Linked DNA regions of Homo sapiens. The protein of the gene in region 5 purifies or fractionates together with the protein of the main gene of each other region. This does not show direct contact. Each region holds a gene or a part of one and is shown on either strand. Other genes may lie near its edges.

Region 1 (4,648 bases), on a different chromosome or scaffold from region 5:
ATGCAGCATCAAAGGGTATGGGTAGATGGCCACCAGCATATCGGCCACAGAGAGACTGACCACGAAGATGTTGCCTGAAAAACATATCGAGGGAGGGAGAAAGGGGAAAGACAGAGAAGAATAAGTGGTTTAAGTACAGAAATCTACACATTTAAGGTGCAGGGGAAGGCCAGCTGGATTATGACCTTTTATAATTCCAGAATTCTTTTAAAGAAATGCTCTGAGAAAGAAGCGAACATAAGACAGACAGCAGTGAGCACAAAATCCCTGCCAGGAGCCTTCACAATGAGACAGGGTCATGCTGCCACCATCTTAGAGAAAAACAAAATGCAAACGTTTCCTTCACTGGAGGTGAGGGGGAGGGAGAAGGAGGAGGGGAGTAGAGGTGAGCTAGAGGGACTTGTTTTTAGGAAGGAGGCTGGAGAGTGGGGGGCAAGGAGAGACACTGGAGGGATGTCAGGAAGCCTCAAACTAAAAAAATTAAAAATAATTAAATAATTAGAAAAAGATAAATTAGCCATCTCCCTCCTATAGCCTAGCATTGCATTTATAATAAACACATTACTAGAGAGAAGATTCTGAGAAAAGGCATTAGAGGCCATCTTCTTAAACAGTCTTTTCCGATGGGATCAAGCAGTAACCTAAAACCTTGCCAAGTCAAATACTTACCGTTCCGAGGTAACCTAAGAGTGAAAACTGAGGGGAAGCAGGGAAGCCCTGTAAAATTTAGTCTGAGACCAAAGAAGTAGTGAGAGGGCGGGCGGGAAGGGTGGCGCGAGGTGGGCGGGGGTGGGGGGGAGGAGAAAAAATCCTGCAAGGATTAGCAGAAGTGCCTGTTTCAGTTACATGCCGCGTCCACGTCCACGCGCAGAGCCGCGCACTGGCACATTCAGCGCCCTGCACAGAGCTCCCAGCGCCGGGCACTGAACTTTACTGGAGCCTTCAGGTTAAACAGGATAGAGAAGAAGGGTCACCCCCACTCCGGTCTTGTAGGGCTGAGGTGGGAACTTTTTTGTAAAACCTTTCACAAAAAAGAGAAGGAAGAGGCCAGGTGCAGGCGCAGAGCCCTCTTTCTTTGGAGACACCTCGTTGCTAATTAGCATTGGTTTGGCAAAATATTGCACTTCATCTTGGACTAGGAGAAAATGAGCGCTTTTGAAAAGGGCAAAGGTATGGCTCCTTCTTCCTCCTTCCTCCAGCGCTGTCAGCACTCGGCCTCAGCACTTTCTACCGAAGAGGTTCTTTCTATGGTTTTCCGGCAGAGTAATGAATTCAGGGAAATACAGCCGAAAAGAGAAGGGGCAAAGCCTTAAAAACAAAACCACAACAACCATAAAAGCCTTTATTTGAATTATAGAAGGAAGGAAGGAGAAGGAGAAAAAGAAAGAAAAGAAATCTAAAGGGAATAAAATGGGCTTCGCAGGTCGCCCCCAGGATTCCGTGGGTTTGCACCTCGGGACCGCACCGCGGGGGTGAAGGTGAAGACCTAGTGTATGGCCCCACGATTCCAGGAGACGAAGGAGAAATCGGAGACACCCACCAGACTTTGTAAGAAAACTTTTAATGACTGTGTGCCAGTCAGTGCGTTTTTAAACTTGTTCAGTGTTCGTGACTCCTTGCCCAAGCAAAGTAATCCCCCAGACCCCGGCCGCCACCTCTCCCCCACGCCCTGCCCGGGAGAATCCAGCTGGTCTCCCCACCCTCTCAGACCCCCTTCGGTCCCCACTCCTAGCCCCAGCCGATCGAGAATCTGGCGGTGGAAATTCCAGGCGCCGCCCCTCCCTCCCCCGGCCTGAACTCGGAGTTTGGGCGCCTTTGCCCCTTCCCCTCCCTTCCAGAGCCCTCTCCCGCCCAACCTGTAAGCCGGACTAGCTGCTCTGCAGTGTCTGCCGCCCCCACCCCCAGCACAGGTCGCAGCGCCCGGCATCCTCCCACGCTTCCCTCCTGCCCTGCTCGCCGCCGGCCCCCGGCCCCCGGCCTCCTCCCGCTCGGCAGTGGCTAGCAGCGGGGGAAGTCCCGCCTGCGGCTCCCAGACCCCAGCCCTTTGCAGCCTCTCTGAGTCCCCCATCGCCGCCTCTGAGCTCTCCCGTCGCCCTCCCGCCAATCCCTACTCGGTTTTGCTGCCTTCTATCCCTCCACCCCCAGCAACGCCCAGCTCCCAAGCCTCTTGGCCGGCCCGCCCTGCGACCCCCCAGTTCCCCGCTTACGGACCTTGGGATCTCCGCTGCCGCCGCCGTCGCTGCCACCGCCTGCTGTGCCCGACCCGCCGCTTGCCTCTCTCTGCCGTTCGCCCTGGGACGGGCGGACGGAGCTCGGCTCCGGCGGGCTCAGACCTCCCTGCTCGATTCTCGGGCGCGGGGGTCTGTGCTCCGCCGCCCGGGATCTGCCCGGGAGCCGTCCTGGAGCCCCAGGGCCGCGGCGAGCGGGCTCTTGGCCCGGCTAGGGAGAGGCCACTGCGTTGCGCTCTGGTAAGGGCCGCCGCGGCCGCCGCGAACTTAACTTTCACAGAGCAGGTCGCAGCCCCGCTGCTCCCTCCGCGTCAGTTCGGTCCGCGCTGCCTCAGCGCGGCCGCCCTTGCGGCGTCCGGCTCGGCTTGCTGTCCCCGGGCGAATCGCCTGACTCTCCCGCTCGGGTGCCGGCTCCCTCCGCATCAGGCCCCGACGGGACAGGGATCCTCGGGCTGCCGCGCACCACGGGAACGCTTTGTACTTGGATGCCCAAAGCTAATTCTCTGTGCTCTCTCGGCCTTGAGAACCTCCACGTTTAGAGGGCCGGGACAGAATACTACCACCCCCAGGCTTGCGGGGAATTTGGGAGCAGGGATGTTCAATATGAGGGCACTGTCCATAGATTCTCTATTCGGGGAGCTCAAAAACTAACGCCCTAGGGGTTGCAAGTCTCTGCACACTGGGTAGGGAGAAGAAGGGGTGGCTTACCAGAATTCCGGAGCTTCTTGTTCTTCGTCACAGCCAAAATGACCATGGAGTTGCCGATTAGGTCTACAACGATGGTGATAACCATCGCGCAGAACATAAAGATGATTAGAGCCGGTGGGTATTCTGGCTGGGGTAGCTTACAGCCAATACAGCCATAGGGGGTGGGAACCGCTAGGGTGGGCCCCATGTTGCTCCTGGGGATCGTTAAGATCTCCCAGCAGGCTCAGGATCAGCAGCCAGGTCCAGACAGCAAACACCTGTTCTGTCACCAGGAGCTCCAGGAAAGCGTGCCTCCCTCTCTGAGAGTCAGAGAGCAAATGACAGCATCCCGCCCCTCTCCGATGAGCTTTTAAAGCCTCAAGAGGCGGCTAGCCCCACCCCAAATCCCTCCCCCCGACCAATCAGACCTCCCTGAATACCCCCCCCTTGGCTACCCCCTCTTATTGGACAAATCCACATTGAGGTGTCATCTTGCTTCCGACTGCCTTGTATGTACTTCCTCTCTAGCCAGCCTGCCCTGCCTCTCAATCTCCCAGGTACCTTGCAAGCATCATGACTAGCTCGGAGTCCACCCCACACCCCCTCCACCAGCCCCTGTGCATTCGTTTCTAGCAAGTTCTTCTCCCTCTCTCCTCCAGTGCAAACACCTGGCAAAGAGATGTAGATTGCAGAGCCGGAGCACAGAGTCTTTCATAGGATCCAGTGCTAGACCAAGCCAGTCCACAGCCCCCAGCAGGGTATAGGGGATAGCCGGTGGCCCCTTGAACGCTAGATGCTTGCCTCTGCAAGTATCCTTGTGAGGTCCATCCCACGCCCCATGCCCTTGCCTGTCTAGAGCCTTCTGTGTCCCGCGGGGAACAGGGGACTACTGCTGGGAGCTCCCACCCCCAATCTGGGTCCCTAATCCCTAGGGAACTTAACCCCGCTCCCTTTCTCGCCAGGAGCCTCTTGGCTCCCTTAGCGGCAGCTGCGAGTAGCCGCTCAGTCCGGTCCAGGTCTTGCACTCTCCATAAAGAGATGTACCCTGCGCCCGACTCTGGAAGTGGGGAGCGGGTCTGCACCCTGGGACCTAGGGAAGGCATTGGTGGCCACTCGGTCCTCAGTTTGGGGGCGAACGGGAGCGGGAGCTCGTCTCCTTTCCAGCTGCCGGCAGCCAGGCGGCGGAAGCCAAGGGACGCTTTGGGAAAAAGTAAAACAGGCAATAAAGCTCTTCTCTTGGGTCCCCGCTTCTCAAGGAAACTCAGGACGAGAGGCTCTGACGCCTCTCCCTCTCGGGATGCTCGGCATTCTCTACTGAGCGGCACGGGGCAGTCAGGAAGGCTGAAGGAGCTGCGCCGCAGCCGCGGGAAAGGTGCGGAGGTGTCACGCGGCTAAACCAAGAAGCCTCTGGCTGACCGGCGATCCCTGCCTCAGTCAGGATTCCTCTCGGTCTTTCTCCTTTCCCATGCCCTTCTGGGGTTCTCGTTTCGACCCCATCCCTCTCAGGCCTCCCCCCTCGCCCTCCACACCGCGGATCTCTGTCCCCGTGCGTCACAGTTCCCCTGCGGTGCGCCCAGGATCTCGCTCCGCGGGGACCACGGAAAATTCGAATATTCGGGCAAAACTAAAGGGGCGTGATTCGGACACTCGTTCCCTCAATAACCTTGGTCACGGGAATGGATTTCTGCCGGCTACTAAAAGTTACGGCTCCTGTCGAGAAGCCTTTCAAAATC
Region 2 (4,111 bases), on a different chromosome or scaffold from region 5:
AGATTTTCACCTCGAGGTCATTGGTTTGAATGCAGACGATGCTGGCAGAAACTGAAGGTTATAGAAGGGCAGCAGTTAGCTCACAGAAATAGAACTATGTTCTTACACTAGAGTCTAGCAGCCTGCAGTGACAGATACTGTCATATTTGGTACTAAATCTTTCAGGCTGGAAGCAGAACGGAACTAAAAAAACTGTTCTAGTAATTACTTCCTCTCTCTGACTCAGCTAGGCCATTCTTTGTGGGTTACTCTCAAGGGAATGAAAGGTGGAACCAAACAGACAAGTGTATATGTATTTCATTATGAATGTTAAATAAGTGGTTCAAGACACAACACAGACTTGATTTTACATTTACCATACTGATGAGATAAACTACTGAAAAGACAAAAAATATCACATATGCACACACAGGTAACAGAAAAAGTGCTGCTAAATAGTGTTTTGATGATTACATGCCTTCAGTTTCAATAATTTTCACTTTTTTTTTTTTTTTTTTTGAGACATGGTCTCACGCTATTGCCCAGGCTGGAGTACAGTGATGTGATCAGAGCTCACTGCAGCCTCAACCTCCCAGGCTCAAGTGATCCTCCCACCTCAGCCTCTGGAGTAGCTGGGACCAAGGGCACATGCCACCATGCCCGGCTAATTTTTAAATTCTTTGTAGGGACAAGGTCTCCCTATACTGCTCAGGTTGGTCTTGAACTCCTGGGCTCAAGCGATCCTCCCGCCTCAGCCTCCCGAAGTGCTGGGAATATAGCCGTGAGCCACTATGCCTGGCCAATAACCTTCACTTTCTTATACCGAATATTTAGTAAAAGAATTTGCTACTGAATGAGTATAGAGAACATTTTTATTTGAGATAGAGTCTCACTCTGTCACCCAAGCTGGAGTGCACTGGTGCAATCTCGACTCACTGCAACCTCCGCCTCCCAGGTTCAAGCAATTCTCCTGCCTCAGACTCCCGAGTAGCTGGGATTACAGGCACCCCACACAACGCCTAGCTAATTTTTTTGTATTTTGTTGGTAGAGACAGGGTTTCACCATGTTGGCCAGGCTGGTCTCAAACTCCTGACCTCAAGTGATCCACTTGCCTCAGTCTCCCAAAGTGCTGGGATTACAGGCATGAGCCACCGTGCCCGGCCAGGAGAGAAAACACTTAAAAAAAAAAAAAAAAAGCTGGAAGTTTGTGTACATACATATATTACTCATCCCCGCGCCCCCCACACCACTCTCCTTTCAGAAATAAATTCCGTAATATAATGTCAAGGCTTCCGTTGGATCTGATTGCTACAAAGCGGAAAGACCTCCTTTATGTTAGAAACATCAACTGTAAAAGATGGGGTGGGGGAAGCAGGAGGTACAGGAAGGGAAGAAATCCACTGAGCAGGAAATGAGGAGACTGGGATTCTGTTTTGCCATGGGCCTACCCCGCTTTACCTAGCTGGATGGTCTTGGGCAAGCCATGTCACCTTTCCAGGCTTCATTTACTCTATAAGGCTACAGGACTAGAGGACAGGTGAGGGAACCTGACCAGCTTTAAAATCCTATTACATTAACAGAAGACACGTATCAATTCAGCTCTGGAAAACAAACAGTATATAATATATCACAGCAACTGATTTTTCAAAAATCTAGTGACACAGAAAAAGCAGTTTAGTGTGGCAGAAATATCACTTGAGATAACAGCAAGAAGTGAAGGGTTCAAGTCGCAGTTACGGGCACAGATAAGTTACTCTCTGAACCTCAGCTATCTATAGAAAATGGGGATAATAATTCCTGCCTAATTCAAATCAAGAGGTTATAGGTAGATCAAATGAATATTTACTAAAGTGCTTAACTACATGTAAAATAGTATACAAATGAAGATGTTACTAATAACAAAGATCAGAACACTAAAAGATCACTGATACATGAAAAAACTCAAAGTTATATGAAACTTCCTAGAATACTATTTGAATTCATGAGACAAAAAACTCAATTACAGTAGTTGTATCTGGAGCTTATGTTATTGCCAAATATTCAACAGAATACTTAGTAGGGGTCTATTATGTGCAGGCAAGGTATTAAATGCTAGAAACGCAAAGATGTGGCATCAAAACCACATATGTGGCCTTGAGAAACTTGGTGGAAAGCAGAGGGGGAATAAGCACAAAAGCAAATAAATACAATGTGAAAAGTGACAAAATACAAAGGCCAGGCGCGGTGGCTCACGCCTGTAATCCCAGCACTTTGGGAGGCCAAAGTGGGCACATCACCTGAGGTCAGGAGTTCAAGACCAGCCTGGTCAACATGGTGAAACCCCGTCTCTACTAAAAATATTAAAAAATTAGCTGGGCGTGGTGGCAAGGCGCCTGTAATCCCAGTATTCAGGTGGCTGAGGCAGGACAATCACTTGACCTGGGAGGTGGAGGTTGCAGTGAACAGAGATCAAGCCATTGCACTTCAGCCTGGGCGACAAGAGCGAAAATCCATCTCAAAAAAAAAAAAAAAAAAAAGTGACAAAATACGGAGGTGTTTACATGTAAACAAAGGAAAAGGCTCATCCTAGGTGTCAAACTCAAACTGATCTTAGGTGTCAAAAGTAATGAAATCTAAGCTACATCTTAAAAACTTGCAAGATTTCACCAAGCAGATATTGAATACAAAGAAAAGTAACAGGAAAGAGCCTCTCTGTGCTCTCCCTAGGGGACAGCGCCCACTCTGTTGATGGTTCCTGGATGTACCCCCTCTAGCCATGACCTGCTTAGACATCTCCTGACTGACTTGTCTTAAATGAACTCTTGATTTGCCTCAAACCTGGTCTTACCAAAGTCTTTTGGCTCAACCTCCAAAATGTATGTCAATTGTTTTCATTTTTCTCCAACTCCGCTGTTGTCACCAAGGCCCATCACATCATGCCTCTACTAAGGTAAGAAGTCTCCAACTGTTCCCTCTGCTTCTGCTCTTGGTCCCTGCAATCCATTTTCCACAGAGCAGCCAGAGACATTTTATAAACACAAATCTGTCACTCCTATATAAAACCAATCAATGGCTCCACAATGCACTCAGAATAAAATCCAACCTCCACTGTGTGCTCCCAGGGCCCAACAGGATCTGGGTCCTGCAGGCCTCACCATCATCACTTTACTTGGCACATGGCCTTCTGTCAGTTCTGAACATGTCAATCTCTCGCCACCCACAAGTCCCGTGTATTTACAAAGAATAAACTACGAGCCCTGGGGTGGACTGGGGGTATAGGTTATATTTCAAAACAAACACACACAAAATATTTAATAGCTTACATGTTTAAGTATAACATCTCAGGAAAAAATGAAAACATATACATACAAAGAGACAAACAGTTACAAGAGACACATGACCATACACAGGCACATTTACAGGTCCTTGTCATCAACAGCAATTTTTGGCATCAATGATTTTACTAGATTTTTATTCCTGGCTAAGTAATTTTTCATATTTTCCCAATAATTTATTGGCTTCCTTTTTCTACAGCAAATAAATGCCCTCTGCCGCAACCTTAAGATAGAATGTCTACAACAGAACTCAGATGGCAAACGGTTGGTGAGACCAATGGGCTACTGATGCACTATACATATGAGATAATCAGCAATGGTAGCCTAATGAATTCTGCAACAACAGTCTGCATCATTAATTAAATAGAAACCAGGAAGACATCAGCAGAAGGAAAGTCAAGTACAAGGAAGCAAGAACTAGGGAAAAGGTGGCATGTCTACAACTGTGCTGTCCCATATGGTAGCCACTAGCCACATGTGACTTAAAATGTAGACGAATTAAAATGAAGTAAAATTAAAAATCAGTTTCTCACCCACACTAGTCACAACTCAAGTGCTCAAAAGCCACATTTGGCTAGTAGCTATCACACAAGACAGCAGAGATATAGAAAACAGGTATTGGTTTTGTGGGCCCCAAGGTCTCTGTCACAACTATTCAATTCTGCCGACACAATGCAAAATCAGCCAGACAACATGTAAAAAAATGAACATGAGTGTGTTCCAATAAAATTACTTATGGATAATAAAATTTGAATTCCATATAATTTTCATGTGTCATTAAATATTCCCTTGATTTTTCTTCAATCACTTAAAAATG
Region 3 (4,845 bases), on a different chromosome or scaffold from region 5:
AGTCTCTAGTCTCAATAAACCAGGGGCACGATGCACTGCAGAAAGCTGCAGGGACCTCTGCCCTTGAACACAGAGTATTGTCCAAGGTTTCTCCCCGTGGGATAGTCTGAAATATGGCCTCGTGGGATGAGAAAGACCTGACCGTCCCCCAGCCCAACACCCGTAAAGGGTCTGTGCTGAGGTGGATTGGTAAAAGAGGAAAGCCTCTTGCAGTTGAGAGAGAGGAAGGCCACTGTCTCCTGCCTGACCCTGGGAACTGAATGTCTCGGTATAAAACCTGATTGTACATTTGTTCAATTCTGAGACAGGAGAAAAGCCGCCCTATGGCGGGAGGCGAGACATGTTTACAGCAATGCTGCCTTGTTATTCTTTACTCCGCTGAGATGTTTGGGTGGAGAGAAACATCAATCTGGCCTACGTGCACGTCCAGGCATAGTACCTTCCCTTGAACTTAATTATGTCATAGATTCTTTTGCTCACATGGTTTTTGCTGACCTCATTATCACCCTGCTCTCCTACTACATTCCTTTTTGCTGAAATAATGAAGATAATAATCAGTAAAAACTGAGGGAACTCAGAGGCCGGTGCCGGTGCAGGTCCTTGGTATGCTGAGCGCCGGTCCCCTGGGCCCACTGTTGTTTCTCTATACTTTGTGTCTTATTTCTTTTCTCAGTCTCTCGTCCCACCCAACTAGAAATACCCACAGGTGTGGAGGGGCAGGCCACCCCTTCACAGGCGTGGTGGTGCACACCTGTAATCTCAGCTACTCAGGGGGCTGAGGCACGAGAATTGCTTGAACCTGGAAGGCGGAGGTTGCAGTGAGTCGAAATGGTGCCAGCCTGGGCAACAGAGCGAGACTCTGTCTCAAAAAAATTTAAATTTAAATTTAAAATGCCCGCTGCACGAGATTCCCAAGGCTGCTGTACGCATTACCACAGACTTAGTGGCTTAAAACCACATAAGTGCATCCTCCTCCAGTTCGGCAGGTCAAGAGTCCAAAACATGTCTCACTGGAATAAATCAAGGTATTGGTAGAGTCAGGTTCCTTCTGGAGGCTCTAGGGAAGAATCCACTTCCAGCTCCTACAGACCGCCACATTCCTCCACTCTTGGCCCCGCCTCCATCTTCAACCTGCATCCTCACTGGAACCTCTCCTTTATTTATTTATTTATTTACTTATTTATTTTTGAGACAGAGTCTCGCTCTGTCGCCCAGGCTGGAGTGCAGTGGCTCAATCTCAGCTCACTGTAACCTTCGCCTCACAGGTTCAAGCGATTCTCCTGCCTTAGCCTCCTGAGTGGCTGGGATTACAGGCACATGCCACCACACCTGGCTAATTTCTTTTGTATTTTTAGTAGAGACAGAGTTTTACCACGTTGGTCAGGCTGGTCTCGAACTCCTGACCTTGTGATCCGCCTGCCTTGGCCTCCCAAAGTGCTGCGATTACAGGCGTGAGCCACCACACCCAACAACCTCTCCTTCTATCTTCCATCTCCCCTCTGACTGAGCCTCCTGCTCCCTCTTATAAGGACCCTATAAGACTACAAGGCAGGACCGGCACAGTGCCTCACACCTGTAATCCCAGCACTTTGGGAGGCCAAGACAGGAGGATCACTTGAGGTCAGGAGTTCGAGACCAGCCATGGCCAACATGCTGACACCCCATCTCTACTAAAAATACAAAAATTAGCAGGGCTTGGTGGTGCACGCCTGTAGAGTCAGCTACTCGGGAGGCTGAAGTGGGAGGACCACCTGAGCCCAGGGAGGGTGAGGCTGCAGTGAGCTGTGACAGCATGACTGCACTCCAGCCTGGGTGACAGAGAGACCCTGTCTCCAAAAAAAAAAAAAGACTACATGATAATCATAAGATCCTTCACTTGGCCGGGCACGGTGGCTCACGCCTGTAACCCCAGCACTTTGGGAGGCCAAGGTGGCCAGATCCCCTTTGGTCGGGAGCTCAAGACCAGCCTGACCAACATGGAGAAACCTCGTCTCTACTAAAAATACAAAATTAGACAGGCGTGGTGGCACATGCCTGTAATCCCAGCTACTCAGGAGGCTGAGGCCGGACAATCGCTTGAACCCGGGAGGTGGAGGTTGTGGTGAGCCGAGGTCGTGCCATTGCACTCCAGCCTGGGCAACAACAGCGAAACTCTGTCTCAAAAAAAAAAAAGATGCTTCACTTAACACATCAGCGAGAACCTCTGACACGTGAGGTAATGTCGTCACACCTTCCGAGGATTAGGACGTGGACCCCTCTACGGAGTCACGACTCTGCCCACCACACCCATGTCCCACAGAGGCTAACGCTGGCAACAAGATAGTGTCCAGCAACAGGAGGCTGAGCAGGTAAACAGCACTGCACCCACAGGAGAGAAGGGCACCATGCAATACAGTGGCCACCAGCCACAGAGGCTAATTTTTAAGAAAGTTTAAATTAAGTAGGCTGGGCGAGGTGGCTCACGTCTGTAATCCCAGCACTTTGGAGGCCGAGGCAGGCGGATCACCTGAGGGCAGGTGTTTGAGACCAGCCTGGCCAACATGGCAAAACCCCGTCTCTGCGAAAAATACAAAAATTAGCCGGGCGTGGTGGCGCACGTGTGATCTCAGCTCCTGGGGACGCCAAGGTGGGAGGATCACCTGAGCCCAGGAGGTCAAGGCTGCAGTGAGCCAAGATCGCGCCACTGCACTCCAGCCTGGGCGACAGAGCCAGATTCTGCCTTTAAAAATAAACGAACAAATAAATAATACAAAACAACAAAATAAAGAGTTTAAAAGTCTGGAAGGAAAGCAACATTTACAAGGGCCCAGGCTCGCCCTTCCCTCCGAGTGACCTTGGGCCGGTGACCTGGCCGGCCAGAGCGCAGGTTTGCCCCACTCCGGGCGGGCACTGCGGGTCGGGAGCTACGGGGCCTGGACCCGGGTGCGAGGGGCGGGGGTCTCCGCCGCCTTCCCGGCCCCTGCGCTGGGGGCCCGCCTTGACCGCGCACGCGGGGCTAGAATGTACTCACTTGAGCAGCACGGCGGCGCCTGCTACCGTGCCCAGCGCCGACAGCGGCAGCAGGTAGCGGCTCATGCCGGGCCGGGGACAGGCGTCAGGCGTCAGGGGTCGGCGCGGAGCTTGCTGCACACCAGCCGCCTGGGTAGCTCCGAGGAAGAGCGCGCGACGCAGCCACAGGCGAGCGGAGGCGCAGGCGCGGCTGGGCCCGCGTCCGGAACTGGGCTGCGAGGGGCGGGGCGCGGGCGGAGGGGGCGGGGATCCTAGGGACGGGACCTATGAGCATCGGTCCTGAGCGCTGTCACAGCTGGGATTGGTGGTTTCAGGAGCCTGTGGGCGTGGCTAGTCCGGGGGCGGGGCCTATGGTTTGTTCGAATGACGTCACACTTGCCGCAGCGTATAAGGCGCTACGCAGTTCTGGAGTGAAATAGGTTCGAATCCCACCACTGTCAATTCCAGACTGTGACCCTCTGTGTGTCTTTCAACTATATCAGCCTATTCCCTCATCTGGAAATGTGTGTTTACCTTCTTCATAGACTTTTGGAGATAATTTGAGAATTTCCATGCACAGAAACAAGGATCTAGTAGCCTGTGGGTACCCAAGCTCCTGGGGTCCTGCAGGAGAAGGCGGCTGGGGGCCTGGACTCCTGGGTCTGAGGGAGGAGGGGCTGGGGGCCTGGACTCCTGGGTCCAAGGGAGGAGGGGCTGGGAGCATGGACTTCTGGGTCCGAGGGAGGAGGGCCGGGTGCCTGGACTGCTGAGTCTGAGGGAGGAGGGGCTGGGGGCCTGATTCATTCCCAAATTATCAGAATCTCATCCCCATGTCTGGCCCTGCACAGAGATATCTTCCCTGAACTCTGCCTGAACTACCTTTCTTAGATTGAGTATTGCACACACTCCTGCACTTACCTGTCCATGTTTGTCACCCCCACCAAACCGGGATGCACCTCTGGGCACCTGCTTCCCCTTGCACTGCTCACAGCGAGTGTATCTGATCACCACCTCCTACCCCTGACTGTGCCTGAGGTGCCAGGAGCAGACACCGCTGGAAACAGGGAAGAATTCAACCCAATCTAACTAGGAGTAAGTTTTCTTCCTCATCAGATGAACTGTCATCTTCTTATATGAGCCCTGCCATAATGGAGATTATACAGGCAGGAAGAGCTATTTTAAGACCTTAGTCAATGGCCGGGCACGGTGGCTCACGCCTGTAATCCCAGCACTTTGGGAGGCCGAGACAGATGGATCACGAGGTCAGGAGATTGATACCAGCCTGGCCAACATGGTGAAACCCTGTCTCTACTAAAAATACAAAAATTAGCTGGATGTGGTGGCACTCACCTGTAGTCCCAGCTACTCAGGAGGCCGAAGCAGGAGCATCACTTGAACTCGGGAGGTGGAGGTTGCAGTGAGCCGAGATTGCCCTACTGCATTCCAGCCTGGCGACAGAGTGAAATTCTGTCAAAAAAAAAAAAACCTTAGGCCTGTAGACCTTAAGCTCTCACCATCTCAAACGTATTAAACCAGTTACACAATGCCAAATGCTGTATAAGAGGCACTTGGAGGAGTCAAATTCATAGAGACAGAAAACAGAGTGGTGGCTGCAGGGGGCTGGAGATGAGATTGGGAAGTCACAGGATTTGTTTTTGTTTGTTTGTTTGTTTTGTTTTGTTTTTTGAGAGACAGTCTCACTGTGTCACCCAGGCTGGAGAGCAGTGGGCGATCTCAGCTCACTGCAACCTCTGCCTCCTAGGTTCAAGCGATTCTCCTGCCTCAGCCTCCCGAGTAGCTGGGGCTACAGGCACGTGTCACCACACCCGGCTAATTTTTGTATTTTTAGTAGAGACG
Region 4 (4,111 bases), on a different chromosome or scaffold from region 5:
TGTTTGCTCTTTGAGGTACATGCCTTAATTTTATTAATATATGCTATCAACTTATTGATTCAGTACTTTCAAATTGTGATAGAAAATCTTAGCTGTCCCTAACTAGGATTCTAGCCAACTAAAAAATTCTAACTTTGCCTCCTAACTCTAGCAGTTCTTTGTTCGTTCTCTTTGACTTTGGCTTTGAGGATTCCTCTAGATAATTATGTTCTCTAGATAAAAATGTTCTTAGACTGTCCCATGAAATCCCTCTTCAGTGTCTCAGGGGTTGCTGTAGGAGGGCTTAGAAGGGAAAATGGATCAGGCAAGCCTAACAGTCTAGGCTTGAGTTTTCCTCGTCTTCTTTTAATTAGACTGACTCATTTTCCTATGTGTTTTAAATATTAAGATACTATGTAAAATATCATGAGGAAAGGAAAATAAAGCGTTCTGCTATTAAAAAGAACTGAAAGCCAATGAAAATGTCATTTGTAGATGCTTCTGCTTGCACTTAGAGTCTGCAGATGGTATACTGGGAAGAAGTAGGAACGTTCGGAAAATACCTCGGCTCTTGACTGGGTTTGGTATTCTTTTCTCTGCCTTCACTGTAGCTCTTCTATCCTGGTATTCAAGGTTCCAACCATGGTTGCTTTAATCTGCCTTTCTCTCCTCCTTTAACATATGTTTATTTAGCAATTAACTGGGGGGAGGGAGGGAGTGGGTAGAAAAAAGTATTTTCCAACATTTTAAAATGAAAGAAATAATTGTTTATGGTTTGAAAAGTCACCAAGACTATTATTGAGTGATTATTTGTGACATGTTTACCTAGAGAAATTATTTGGGGAAAAGAAAGCTTTATATTTCTTTCTTGGTGGGAAGCAAGCAGCTGGAATAATTTGTTATAAAAGACCTGGGGACGAGGTATGAAAACATGAAAGAACTAGCGGATAGCTTATAATATAGTTTTAGGAAGGATATATAGAAAGAAGGAGTGTCCAGATGAGGAGAACTCACTTCTGGAGTGTCTATAGAGTATTGGAGGGAAATAGATAATTGCTTCAGTATTACATACTTTTGGATGATACATTTGATTCTGCAAGACAGACATAGGTCAGCTGGAGAGGAGAGAATTTGTCCCTGTTTGGTAGGTGCTTGTGGTCTGATTGGTGAAGTTAAACTCTAGAATGTCAAGGAGCTAGTTTGGTAACACAGTCAAGGTTGAAATTGTAGTTCCTTGTCCTGCTGTCCACCTTTGGGGAGCAGGGATTTGTTCTTGCAACAGTGTATTTAAAGTATTATCCTTTTAAAAAAGGAAGATATATTGTGTATTTCTGGATTTCTTAGAGAGTTCCTGATTGAGGGAGAATCTTATTTGAGAAGAACTATTGTTTTCTTTGCTTATTCCTTGCATATACTTTGTTAATAATATCACCTGAACGTGTCCAAATGACCACTGCTTTCCCTACCTCTTCTATTCCTCTTTATGCCTTTGAATCTTTCTTCTTTCATCCATTTGCTTCCCTAAATTCTGCTGCTTGCTGGCTCCATACCAGTCAGTCTCAGGCCTGCTGTGTTAACCCTTTGCCACACACAAACTTTATATGCAAGGACAAAACACAGGTGTTCAGCATAAACCACATTGTTTGTATAAACAGTTTAGGCACAGTGAGCCACTCTAGTTATTTAGGGAAAGTTTATATCACTGTAGGGAACTGTTTACTAGTCATGGTTCCCAGATGTAAGCCTTGTAAGCAGGCCTTCCTAAGAGTAGCTATGTTGAACACCTGCATTCTTTTTGGGAGTCTAGAATTTTGGTACTGCTAGAAAGAAGGTGCCCATGTGGCCAGCCCCCAATAAAAACCCTGGGCATCAAGTCTCTAATGAGCTTTCCTGGATGAGTAGCACTTCACATGTGTTGTCACAACTCATTGCTAGAGAATTTATATGGGTTCTGAATAGATTCTTAAATCTATTTTTATATTCTTTTTTTGGTTTTGTTTTTGAGATGGAGTTTCACTCTTGTTGCCCAGGCTGTAGTGCAATGGTGCTACCTCAGCTCACCACAACCTCCGCCTCCTAAGTTCAAGCGATTCTCCTGCCTCAGCCTCCCAAGTAGCTGGAATTACAGGTGTCCACCACCATGCCTGGCTAATTTTTGTATTTTTAGTAGGGATGAGATTTCATCATGTTGGCCAGGCTGGTCTTGAACTCCTGACCTCAGGTGTTCCGCCCGCCTCGGCCTCCCAAAGTGCTGGGATTACAGGTGTGAGCCACCACGCCTGGCCAAGAAAAGTTTTAATATGACTCCCAGGTTTCTGATGTGGGCAGCTAACTGAGTGGGCCATGAACTAAGGTCAGGACTATAGGAGGGAAGAACACAGAGATGTCCAGTAGGGAGTTGAATAATGTGTCTATAATTTAGCAGTGAGCTCTATGGAGAGAAATTATAGTCTTCATCATGTAGGAGATAATGGAGGCCATAGCTGCATCTTAGATCACTGACAGAAAGTGTGGAGGGAGAAAAGAGGATCCCAGGATGGAGTCTTGTGGGGAAAGCAGACAGTGAAGGGGTAGATGGAGGAGACAGCAGGAGCCCTTTATGTTCTGTGATACTGGAGGTTATCACCATTTGAGTTAACCATAGTTTTCTCTTTCAGGAATGGTAGTGCTATTGGCCTTCCAGTCCCACCTATCACAGCCTTAATCACCCCAGGTCCTGTTCGTCATTGCCAAATTCCTGACTTGCCTGTGGATGGGAGCCTACTCTTTGAATTCCTTTTTTTCATCTACCTGTTGGTTGCTCTTTTCATTCAGTACATCAACATTTATAAAACAGTGTGGTGGTATCCTTACAATCATCCTGCTTCTTGTACATCACTGGTAAGTCTTACTCAGACTTTAAGTTCTTCATGTTACTTACCCAAGAAACTACCTGGAAAGCCTTTCTGTAGAAATTGTTTTTCTTAATAATTTTTCTTTTAATAAAATGTTTTTCTGCTAGGCCACAGATTACTTTCAGAAATAAAATTTCATGATAAGATGGTTAAATTATAAGTACTACCAGAGGAAGTAAAAATATAAATGAAAATGCAGAAAACATTTAAATAATTTTTTATAATAATATCACGGAAAGGTTTTGGTATTTAGTTTTCTCTACACCATTTTAAATTTGTAAGTATAAGGTGTCAGTGTTACTACATTCTAACAACTCTACCCTTTTAATGGCTGAATTAGGATAGTGGTAGCTTCTGTAACAAATAAACTCTGAGGCAGTTGTCCTGGTTGCCAGGAGTTCTTCAGGGGACCCAGGCTGATGGAGATTCTACTGTCTTCCAACATGTGACCTCCAAGGTGGCTGTGGCCCATCCCTGTCAGCCAGAAGGGGAAAGAGCTTAGGGCAATGTAAAGGACAGTTTCTTATGGGCCAGGCTTACATCATTTCCACACATGTCCACTCCTAATTACAAGAGAAGCTAAATATAGTCCTTTAGCTGGGTACATAGTGAACTTAAATCAAATTGGGAAATTGGGAAGTGAAATTGAGAAATTGGCTGTCTTTGCTGAAGTACATAAAAATATATTGTAGGTTTCTTCTGTTCTCTTTCCATTTATTAAGAGTACCATGATAGGCCGGGCGCGGTGGCTCACGCCTGTAATCCCAGCACTTTGGGAGGCTAATGCGGGCGGATCACGAAGTTAAGAGATCGAGACCATCCTGGCTAACACGGTGAAACCCTGTCTCCATTAAAAATATAAAAAATTAACCGTGTGTGATGGCAGGCGCCTGTAGTCCCAGCTACTTGGGAGGCTGAGGCCGGAGAATGGCATGAACCCGGGAGGTGGAGCTTGCAGTGAGCCGAAATCGAGCCGCTGCACTCCAGCCTGGGCGACAGAGCGAGACTCTGTCTCAAAAAAAAAAAAAAAGAGTACCATGATAGTCTTGATGCAGAGAAGGTTCACCATAGATGGGTATATAAAAAAATATTGGTAAGGCCTGGGCATGGTGGCTTATGCCTATAATCCCAGCACTTTGGGAGGTGAAGGCAGCAGGATTGCTTGAGCCCAGGAATTTGAGACCAGCCTAGGCAACATAGTGAGACCTTGTCTCTACAAAAAATAAACAAAATTAACT
Region 5 (4,111 bases):
CTCCAATTTCTGTAAACTGAATTTCAAAAAATGTTCTAAGTGTAGACAAAATTTCAGTCAACATTTCTTGAATTATCTACATTGTCAGGCATTTTAAAACATATTTTATATAAGTTGAAATGAAGGCTGTGTTTATAACATTTATTGACATAATTTGATTCCTAAAGTGGAGCAACTGTTTTCTAAAGTTTAGGGGAAGTTTCTTTCTTATTAAAATAATAGATACTGAAGGTTGCTGAACAATCAGATGTTCACAGTCTCCATCCAGAGAAATGTAGAGAACTACAAACTTAACAAGGTAACAATTGCTATATATTTTTGCTTGGGTTTCTTATAAACAATACAAGTAGACTAAAATACTATGCATCATTTAGCAATAAATAAATGATAGTGATGTTAATGTTTAATGAATGACTAACAACTAAATTGGTTTTCAAGTGTTATGGCAGCATAGCATCAGAAATTCAATGTCACTTTAATCACAAATTTAAATAAAATTGATTCAGCACCCAAAAAATATCTATTTAATATACAGTTTATAATTCTCACTAGAAGTCAAGACAAAGTCGGCTCCAATGTTAAGGGGTTTACTTTATCAGAAAAAAAATCTGCTGGATTTCTAGAAAAATGAATAAAACTATTTGAACGGCCCCTGGGAGTAATCGATAATATCTTTCAAGAAAAAAAATTATATAAATAAATAAAATGCTAGAAAAACCCACCTTCCCAGTTGAATCTGAGGAAGCAGAGGGTTCTCCCGTTCGCTCTGTAGATCCAGCACAAGGAGAAAGGCCCGGGCTGAAGGCCATGAGGTCGGTCTTCTGCTTACCCTCGCCAGAGCACACCCTCTGCCTCCTCTGCTGCGAGTACGACCAACTCCCCACCGCGCTAGAACACACCAGCGTCGGCTTGCCAGGCGCGCACTCGCCCTCGGTGGGCATCGCCGAGCACCGCAGCACAGTGTACAGCAGCAGCGTGAGAACCAACAGGCTAGACACCGCGCAGATGGCGATGATCAGGTACACGTTGACATCCACCAGCGTCACCTCGGGGCCCGTGGCACCCACTGACGCCCGCGACGATGACTTTGGCGCCTGGCCGCTCTCCACCAGCGACACCAGCACAGTGGCCGTGGCCGTCAGCGCTGGCTCCCCGTGGTCTTTCACCAGCACCAGTAGGCGCTGGCGCGGTGCGTCCGTTTCGTCCAGGGCACGCGTTGTGCTGATCTCGCCCGTGTACAGCCCCACGCGGAACGGGATGCTCGCGCTGGCCGTTTCTGGCTGCAGCTCGTATGAAAGCCACGCGTTGTAGCCCGAGTCGGCGTCCACTGCGCGCACCTTCCCCACCACTACGCCGGCGCCCACCGACCGCAGCACCATCTCGCTCACTGCGCCGTCAGTGCCCCTCATCCGAGGTGTCAGCAGCGCCGGCGCATTGTCGTTCTCGTCCAGCACGAACACCTGCAGCGTCACGTTGCTGCCCAGAGGCGGCACGCCCGCGTCGCGCGCGCTCACCTGGAACTGTAGCAGCTCCAGCTCCTCGTGGTCCAACGGCTGCAGCGCGTACACCTTGCCGCTCTCCGCGTGCACTGACACGTAGCTCGACAGCGAGCGCTCGCCCAACCGCCGCTCCACCAGCGAGTAGGACACCAGGGCGTTCTCCTGCGCGTCAGCGTCCCGCGCAGACACCGTGAAGATGTGGCAGCCCGGCGGGTTGTTCTCCTTCACGAACACCGTGTACTCGGACTGCGCGAACGCTGGTGCGTTGTCGTTCACGTCGGCCACCTCCACAGACACCCTGGCCGTGGCCCACAGTGAAGGCGAGCCCCCGTCCCGCGCGGTAACCACCAGCTCGTAGGCGGACACACTCTCGCGGTCCAGAGCTCTGTCCAGCACCAACGAGTAGTAATTCTTGTAGGTGGACACCAGCTTGAAGGGGACGTGGGGCGTCAGGGAGCAGGTAACCTGCCCGTTGGCATCTGCGTCTAGGTCGATCACACTAATCAGGGCAATAACTGTCCCCAGTTGTGCGTCCTCTTTTACAGGAACCGAGAGCGTTTTGATAGTCAACTGTGGAGCATTGTCATTTACATCCACAACTTCCACAAGAAGTGTACAATGACCAGCCAGGGGTGGGAAGCCTTTATCGACAGCCTCGACTGGGATCTTGTGTGCTCTACTTTCTTCAAAATCCATATGTCCTATCACTGTGATTGCCCCACTTAAGGGGTCCATGTGGAACTTGGATTTTATATCTGGAGAAACATCACTGGAGAAGGAGTAAATAATATCCCCATTCAAGCCTTCGTCTAAATCTGAGGCATTGGGGTGAATCACCAGCGTTCCGATAGAAACGTTTTCTGGTAATTTCACCGTATACAGGGTTCTGTCGAACACTGGGGCATTGTCATTGTTGTCCAGTACCGTGATGAGTAATTGAACGGTGCCAGTCAGCTCGGGTTTGCCTCCATCGGTGGCCGTGAGCAATAAATGAAGCTCCGGAGTTTCTTCTCTGTCTAAAAGTTTCCGTAATACAAGTCCAAGAGGTTTTACCTGCTGGTTGCTGGTTGGCACGTCCAGGAAGAAATACTCATTGGGGCTCAGTCTGTAAGTGAGCAGGGCGTTCTCCCCGATATCTGCATCGGACGCGCCCTCTAGTGGAAACCGAGAGTCAAGCGGCCTGGATTCCGCGATGAACAGATTCTTTTGTGTCGCTGGGAACACTGGAGGGTTGTCGTTAATGTCCTTCACCTCCACGTCCACATGGAAAACCTGCAGCGGCCTGTCTACGATCACCTCCAGGTGGATGCTGCACTCCGCGCTCCGCCCGCACAGCTCCTCGCGGTCGATCCGAGAATTCACAAACAAAATGCCATTCTGCAGATTTACCTCCAGAAGGTCCCCGCGGCCTTTGGAATCCAACTGGAACAGGCGCGGCACCAGCTCCGCCAGCTCCAGCCCCAGGTCCTGCGCGATGCGGCCCACGAAGGTGCCGTGTTCGGCTTCCTCCGGGACGGAGTAGTGGAGCTGGCCGCTCCCCACCACCCACATTGCGAGGATCAGAAGCGAGAGCAGTAGAGGCTGACCCTCTGGATCTCCTCGACTTGAGTATAACATTTCAAATACTCAGTCTTCTTCTAATTAGTGAAAATTGCCTCCAAATTAGAAGAAATCATCTGATTTCGTCAGTCCCATTCTGCTGTGTTCGCCATCGTTCAGCACAGAGAGAGTGAAAAAGAATTGAGCCTCTTTCCCATGGGAAAAGGGCTGTATTTGTCTGGATTCAGAGAGAACATCGCGGCAAAGAGTGACATCACGTGGCCCAAAGTGTAAGTACATATTTCATGAATAAAAATTTCACAGTTATTCTGCAAAACTTATTTCATTTTCTTAATTTTTTCTTAAGTAATGATTGTTGAAACAGAAGATCCCGTTTCTCTTGCTGGAGCCTTCTTAGCAGACTGACTGCCTCTAAAAGTTTTGTATGACCTTGATTGTGGTTTTCTTATCCCTGAGAAAACTCTCCACTTAAGTTTTAAATAACGACAGAAATGAAGTAACAATTAAAATGATTCCATTGAGCAATCACGAATTTTAAATTACAAAATTCTTTTGTTCTGGAATTCAGAATCTCCCATATGGCTCGAAATAGGATTCTAGTGTAAGAGAAATCCAGGAGTTGCAATCTCTAGTGAATATAGGAGCCCAGAAATCTACTGATGAAAAAGAAACTTAGTCATGTCTGGTAAAAGGAATCAACAAAAAGTAGCAACCAACTGAGGTAGTTTTCTTGAGTAATTCTATGAATTGAAAAGGTATAAAATATTGCAAGAAAAGCGAGAATTGACTTTAAGGTCTTGTGTTGCGTGGGGAGAAAATATATTTTTCTCTTTTGTAGCATTTATACAATCTGTTTCCAGAAATGTGTTGTTTTGATTCTTTCCAAGCTTTATAATCTATGAATAATCTCTTCTTTGTAGTCTCCAATATAGTTTGTGTAATGTTATTACAATATGTTTTAATTTCATTATTGCTCATCCTTAGTACTCGGGGCAATTTCTGTTTTTAAAGCTATGCTTGAGATTCTTTTCCTGACTAAGTTCTACAAAGTT
Region 6 (2,700 bases), on a different chromosome or scaffold from region 5:
AATATTAGCCAGGTTTGGTGGTACCCCCCTGTAGTCTCAGCTACTTGGGAGGCTGAGAGGGAAGATCACTTGAGCCTAGGAGTTCAAAGCTGTAGTTCTACCTTTAGAAAACGTATCCTAAGGTGACAGACGAGTATGCAAACACATATGTGAGGATATTAACTTTAGGGTTGTTTATAATGGTGAAAAATTAGAAATAACCAACATGGACATCGAGTACTGGTTAAATGTGTAGTGGCATATCCATACAAGAAAACATGTCATCAAAAATGTCCATGTAAGCCTGTACAAAATTGTGCACAACATGTTGAGGGGGGAAAAGCAATACACAAAATCAAATAATTCCAATTTTATAAATGAACATGTGGAAGACTGCTCACTAAAATATTAGATAAGGGTGACTGGTTTTTTTTCTCTTTAGATTTTTATATCTAGCTTTTATTATTTTTATAATAAATATTTCAAGCTATTTTCATTTTAGAAAACAAAAGCCACTAAAATCAAGTATTACTATCTTTATTATGGTATACAGCAGTATTTTATACATTAGCTCATTTTATAGTAAAAACATTTATGCACAACTGTAGAGAAACTGCTGCACAGATAGCTCCAACTTAAATTAGAAAATATTTTCTTTGTAGAAAATAGTAAAAATTATAACATTTACCAAGCTAACCCAACAAGTTCATTTAAACCAAAAAGTAGCTAAATACATTATACATTTATAAATACAGGTTGAATTCTGGGATCCAGGAGAAACTTTAGTCCTTTATTGAAATAGCCATGTTTTAAGTTATGTGAAGTGAAATTTCTATTAATCTTCTCTCTTACTCTTAATTTATGCCAGATTATTTTTCTTTAGGCTAAATCCATAATCCACAACAAGGTTTTAGCTGTTCTTTTCTAAAGGACGGGTACCATATCCTTTTAATCTGCTTGATAAGGTACCCATGCCTATCCAAATAATGAAATGGTTCAGTTATTATTAAAGCATGCCCAGTATTTGGGCAAAACCAGAATCTAATAAATTACACTGTCACCTAATACCCATGGCTTGATGGGAAGCCATGAGGAACAAGGGTAAAGTGATAAAACTGGCAAGTGGATCAAGGAATAAAAGCCAAGAGAATTCTGAGACCAGAGGGCAAGAAATATCTAGTCGGGATTCAAGGACAGAACTGAAGTTCAAATAGAAAAAGAATGTTGCCTCAAGGATTAGGAGCTGAGCTGGCTATCAGAGCTCCTAGTACATGGTGATCAAATAAGGGGCAGTTAGAGATAAAGACTGGATTAAGCAAGAGAAATCAGGACCAAGAAAGATTCTAGGTATTCACAATAATTAAATGAAAACAAGACAGACCATGCAGCTTTAAATTTCCTAGCATAGTAGTTCCAGGATTCTCAGTACAGAAATAATCTCTGGAAATTAAGGCGAGAAGATAATGCCACTCTTAAGCTCCTGTGCTATGTAGAATGTTTCCCAGAGAAATAATATCTGAGAAATCAGGCAGTTATCTGGCCAGGGGCTACATCAGGTTCTTCAGTTCCCTCAAAACAACTTAATCACATACAGTTTGTCTTAAAAGGAAGCCTCCAAGCAGCTAAAACAAACTTTCAACAGACATTCAGTTTAACAGATCCTATACTGTGGCTTTAGGAACTAGGCCACTGACTACCTAAAAACCCCAGCTTGCCCACTTGAAGTTAACCTCTAGAAACATTAGTGATCTGTGAAGTTTTCACCATTAAAACAATGCTTTATCATCCAAATCATACTTGTTCTTCTCTTTGCTTTCCAGTTATGAATTTGTTACCTTTTTGCATTTGATTATTTCCAGTGGTTTGGTTCTTTTTTTTTTTTTTTTTTTTTACATACTCTTGAGCAATGCTAATCTGCGCCCCCTACTCCCTTAAGTCCTTCTTGGTAAATAATGTTAATCTTCCAATAGGAAGAAGTGGAGTACATTACCATTTAAGCACCATTTATCCAGCCTACTTACAAATAAAGCTATGGAGCCACCTTATACATGTGAAATTCCTTAAAACCCTGGCTTTCTATTAAAATGTACTTTTATATATACTATCTATGAAGAATTCACTAAAGCATGAATCACCTTATAATGAGAAGCTAAAAATGTATCAAAACGAACATAAGTATAGGTAATCCACATCAAACATACTACATCTTCCAAGTCTAGAGCATACACTGGTATAAACTGTATTACAACCCAGATTAGTTTGAAATCTTGTTTCAAAACATTGCTCAGTATTAAGTCTCAGTAGACAAATAATAGGACCACATGAGAAACTGTTCGGCAGGTGGCTGAGGAAACCTTAACTTCCAAAGGCTCAAAGTGGTCCTCCAGAGACTGTTACACTCCCTTAGGTATTTATTTCAGGGAAGGACACTATTAAGGGACACTTTTGAGTATAAAGACAGGTGAACTCACAAAGTATAGGCAGATACATGCTTGATTTTATCTTCTAATCTACAGATAATACATTAGAATAAAAATGTAATGAATTCATACACCTTTCAAAAGGAAAAACTGATGAAGAAGTAACAATAAAGTTATAAATGATAATGATCAGATGAAATAATTTAAATGAAGCTTGTCTGTGTCTGAAAGAGACAGGGACTTGGCAAGTGGTCAAAAGGAGGCACAATGTGCTTTTAACTTTGCATGAAAAATAATGTTC
Region 7 (4,111 bases), about 12 Mb from region 5:
GGTGCCTGCCACCACACCTGGCTAATTTTTTGTATTTTTAGTAGAGACAGGGTTTCACCGTGTTAGCCAGGATGGTCTCAATCTCCTGACCTCGTGATCCACCTGCCTCAGCCTCCCAAAGTGCTGGGATTACAGGCATGAGCCACTGCGCCCGGCCACCTCAACATATCTTGAGGTCAACTGTTAGTAAGGTTGAATTAGCAAGATAGTACTAACAAAAAAGTTCTTAAATGACTGCAGAACCTAATTTTGACAACAATGTATGTCCACTGAAGATTTTAATGTCTTTTAATATCTCATCTTCATTTATGGTGGATATTGATCATATTCTAAATATTCTATTCTAAAAATTACAGCATTTTAGACAAATACAAGTAGCAAATGATCTCCACTGTTTGTATATTATGTGAGGTCTAGAAACTGACACATAATCTTGCATGTTTATGAATGGAATCTACTGAGTCACAAGCTCTACCAACTAATTTATTGAGTGTCTATGGCAGACTGTTCGCAAAGATGGCCTCAGCAATTTCTTCAGGGCTCTTACTTTTGCAGTGTAAATTTGCTCCTTCTCCCTTCAAGAGGTGGCTTCTGTTTCTCCAGCCCTGGAATCTTGAATCTAGGCTGGCCCATGACTTACTTTGATCAATGGAATGAAGGTAAAATAACCTATGTGTCTTTCAAGACTAGGCCTTAAGATTTATGCAGCTTCCATACTCACTCCCTTGGAACATTTCTACTACATTTGAGGAATCTGGGGTAGTTTGTTTGAGGGTGAGTGACTACAAGGAGAGAGAAGCCCAGCCAATAGCCAGCTCCGACCACATGGCCAAATCCTCAGAAAACTGTTCTTTTCACCTCAGGAAAACACTGAATATGCCATAAAATTGTGTAGTTTTTTTAAAATAAATATTGTGTTATAATAAAATAATATGCATATAATCACTCTAAATTCTACCGATACAGCTTCAAATGTTAATAAATACTTGTTCTAATTATTAGACATTTTGAAAACTTATCAAAAAGAAAATAAAGCCTTACCCAACTCAACACATCCAGAAATTCCCAGGATAGCTGCTGAACTATGATACAGAGGAAGGGTTATATAAACAATGTCATGAGCAGTACAACCAAAAGCCCACAGGACAGCAGAACCCCTTAAAACCTGCAGCTGACTAATCACAGCTGCTTTTGGTAGACCTGGAAGAAAAGAAAAGAACAGGAAATATATATACACACATACATACATATACATATGCATACATATTCATATAACTAGAAAGGAAGTAACAGAAAGAAGATGATACTGATAACAACTACACTAGCAATTGACAGAAAATATATCAAAGTAGTCTATCTGCTTTGTAAAAGAGGCCATTCTGACTTTAGCAACGCTCCTTTGACAGGCTGCTAAGTAGGCCTGTATCTCAAACGCTATGTAATTTTATCGTTGGCCTTTCTGGATAGATCTAAGATTCTAGAAATTAATTACAGTGGTAGCACACATTTGGTTTCAGTAGCTATCTGATAAAGAGCATTTGGGAGGTAAGTTTTTGTCAGTCCTTATGTGCCTGAAAATGTCTTTTTTTGCCACCTATACACTTGAATGGCTGCTTGTAAAGAATTCTAGGTAAGTAGTCATTTTTACGCAGGACTTTGAAGGCATTGCTCTATAATCTTCTGACTTCCAGTATATATATTGAGCAATTATCAGTCTTTCTGATTTCTTATCCTTTGGATGCAACATGGTATTTCTATTTTTTTTCATTTTTGGAATCTTCTATTTGTTTTCAGTAGTCTGTAATATCATGATGACTTTTACTGGGACCAGTCTCATCTATCCATTTCGCTGGGAAATTTTTAGGCTTTTTCAGTCTAACAACTCAGGTCTTATAGTTCTAGATATTTTTGAATTTGAAAACAAAATAATTTTCACACCCCATTCTTCTCTTTCCTTCCTTATTTCTGTTCTTTTTGCCCATTGCTTTTTTCTGTTACATTTATTTGTGTGTTCATCCTTTCATTTTTAGAACTCTTGATTTTCTGAAGATCAGCCCTCCTGGACAGAATCACTGGTTTCCTAATGTTGCCTATCCTGTTTTCCTTCTCTTACCTTTTGCTTTACTTTTTGAGAGATTTTCCAACAATTATGTTCTCTGAATATTCCTCTTTTTGTAGTATGTTATTTTTATATTATTGACACTTTTTTGTCCCCATCTTTCAGAATATTAACAATAATAATTTTTTGAAAATTTCTCCTCTCTATCTTGTCAGTTTTCTCCAACATCCTTTTTATCTTTCGTTTGTATTGGTCTCAATCTAATCTAGAATATATTCAGGAGGATTTTTTTCAAATATCTGGAGACTACTGACTATCAGTTTATATTTAAAAGTGCAGACACAAAAACACAAAATAAACAAACAAAATATTAACTAGAATCTCTGTGTCTGAAGAATACTTATTTACTAGTTGGTTTCACTGTCCAGGACATTCTGTTGGGGGAATCCATCATGATCAGTGTCTTTCAATTTTTACATGTGGGCTATTCAGATTCCTCAGACAAGAATCTCAAAGATTAAAACAGTCAAGTATTAAAAGAAGTTATATATATTAAAGAGAACATATACATATATGTATATCTATCTATATACATATATACATATTTATAGGGAGGGAGACTTTCTTTTATATCCCCTACTTTTTAAACCTCTGTTCTTCCTGGTATTTTCAGAAGTTCATCTTTTCCAGAATTACGTCTCAGGACTTCTATCAGGGTGGAAGAAGCAATCCAGGACTATAGTTCCTTCTTAAACAAACTTCCCATAAAGTTTCCTGCTTATAGTTTCACATTTATTTTCTACTCTTTGAGGTACCTGGTACCCAATTTCTGAGCCTTTCTGGGGTTTGGTGGGGGCAAATGAATTTTCTTCAAGGCTTCACCATAAGCTTCAGCTTCTTGGGTCTGCGGTGTCTGCCACCACACTCAGTCATCACCTCCTTTTCTAAAATTTTGTAGCTGTCATCTCTAGTTCCATTCCTTTTGTCCTAAGGGACTGTGTATCTGTTCAATCTGCCAACTTCTAGACCTGTTATTATTCAATAGACCTGATTAGGTAGCCTGAACAATCTGAGAAAGAAGCTCCCTCAGTCTGGACAGAGTAGCCACACACATATTAGCACTTTTCAGTTCATTTATCAAAACTGTTCTAATCATGTAAAAAAAAATTATATTCTCCAGTCTAAAAGGGATTACAATTAGGAACTGAATAGATTTTTAAAATGTAAGAAAAATTTTACTATGCAATAGTTGCTCACAACCTATGCACAAGAAATGAGTAACAATACTCTTAATATGTCTAAGTCAAATCAACAATCATTTTCAAACTAATAATGAAAGCCTATTTAGGCTACCATTAATACCATTCAGTTTTTCCTAGAAATCAATTAAGTTTAACATTTCTTTTGAATTCTCTTTCTTTTCTTTCTTAAGACTGAGTCTCACTCTGTTGCCCAGGCTGGAGTGCAGAGGTGCAATCAGCTCACTATAACCCCGAACTTCTGGGATAGAATGATTCAACTGCCTCAGCCTCCTGAGTAGCTGGTACTACAGGTGCATGCCACCACATCTGGCTATTTTTTTTAATTTTTTTGTACATATGAGGTCTCACTGTGTTGCCTAGGCTGGTCTCAAACACTTGGCCTCAAGTAATCCTCCTGCCTTGGCCTCCAAAGTGTGTGATTACAGGTGTGAGTAGTCACTGTGCCAGGCCCTTCTTTTGAATTCTCAGGCAGTTTTATTATTGTTATTGCTGTTGTTTACTTAAAATAAAGCTTATTTACTTGATTTTATTTTGTATCTTAGTCCAAACCTGCAGTGCCTTCAAGAGTTCCTGTTTGTCACATGATTCAATTACCCTGACCAAAATCAGGAGAGCCAGCAACAGGTGCTTAAATTGCCGGTATACCTGGATTATGTTTAGGATTTAATAATTTACACAGGAATATAGAGAACTGTTTTCAAGTACATTAAAACACTTTTTAAATCCAAAAGAATCAGTAGAAACTATTTAAACTAATTTCTTCATTTTAGATATCAGAAATTTGAGGATC

Evidence for each region.
Region 1: the proteins of PCDHA8 (region 5) and GPR50 purify together in Homo sapiens (affinity purification with mass spectrometry; one large-scale study listed by BioGRID and IntAct). This does not show direct contact.
Region 2: the proteins of PCDHA8 (region 5) and BMPR1A purify together in Homo sapiens (affinity purification with mass spectrometry; one large-scale study listed by BioGRID and IntAct). This does not show direct contact.
Region 3: the proteins of PCDHA8 (region 5) and RDH13 purify together in Homo sapiens (affinity purification with mass spectrometry; one large-scale study listed by BioGRID and IntAct). This does not show direct contact.
Region 4: the proteins of PCDHA8 (region 5) and TMEM39A purify together in Homo sapiens (affinity purification with mass spectrometry; one large-scale study listed by BioGRID and IntAct). This does not show direct contact.
Region 6: the proteins of PCDHA8 (region 5) and DDX21 purify together in Homo sapiens (co-immunoprecipitation; one large-scale study listed by IntAct). This does not show direct contact.
Region 7: the proteins of PCDHA8 (region 5) and SLC27A6 purify together in Homo sapiens (affinity purification with mass spectrometry; one large-scale study listed by BioGRID and IntAct). This does not show direct contact.

What each region holds. Positions count from the first base shown.
Region 1 is NC_000023.11:151,175,197-151,179,844, reverse strand, and holds the start of GPR50 (melatonin-related receptor), read right to left. Parts: upstream 3,262-4,648; 5' UTR 3,124-3,261; coding exon 2,937-3,123; intron 2,469-2,936; exon of another isoform or gene 2,009-2,468; intron 75-2,008; coding exon 1-74. UniProt on the Homo sapiens protein: G protein-coupled receptor that plays a role in numerous physiological processes including regulation of energy metabolism, neurite outgrowth or cell migration.
Region 2 is NC_000010.11:86,885,214-86,889,324, reverse strand, and holds part of BMPR1A (bone morphogenetic protein receptor type-1A isoform 3 precursor), read right to left. Parts: intron 1-4,111. UniProt on the Homo sapiens protein: On ligand binding, forms a receptor complex consisting of two type II and two type I transmembrane serine/threonine kinases.
Region 3 is NC_000019.10:55,059,958-55,064,802, forward strand, and holds the start of RDH13 (retinol dehydrogenase 13 isoform 1 precursor), read right to left. Parts: upstream 3,192-4,845; 5' UTR 3,076-3,191; coding exon 3,011-3,075; intron 1-3,010. UniProt on the Homo sapiens protein: Retinol dehydrogenase with a clear preference for NADP. Oxidizes all-trans-retinol, but seems to reduce all-trans-retinal with much higher efficiency. Has no activity toward steroids.
Region 4 is NC_000003.12:119,456,766-119,460,876, reverse strand, and holds part of TMEM39A (transmembrane protein 39A), read left to right. Parts: intron 1-2,636; coding exon 2,637-2,859; intron 2,860-4,111. UniProt on the Homo sapiens protein: Regulates autophagy by controlling the spatial distribution and levels of the intracellular phosphatidylinositol 4-phosphate (PtdIns(4)P) pools.
Region 5 is NC_000005.10:140,847,501-140,851,611, reverse strand, and holds part of PCDHA8 (protocadherin alpha-8 isoform 1 precursor), read right to left. Parts: intron 3,231-4,111; exon of another isoform or gene 3,117-3,230; coding exon of another isoform or gene 588-3,116; exon of another isoform or gene 1-587. Other genes in the region: PCDHA9 (protocadherin alpha-9 isoform 1 precursor), read right to left, coding at 723-3,116.
Region 6 is NC_000010.11:68,982,869-68,985,568, reverse strand, and holds the end of DDX21 (nucleolar RNA helicase 2), read right to left. Parts: 3' UTR 501-2,700; downstream 1-500.
Region 7 is NC_000005.10:128,985,689-128,989,799, reverse strand, and holds part of SLC27A6 (long-chain fatty acid transport protein 6), read right to left. Parts: intron 1,201-4,111; coding exon 1,042-1,200; intron 1-1,041. UniProt on the Homo sapiens protein: Mediates the import of long-chain fatty acids (LCFA) into the cell by facilitating their transport at the plasma membrane.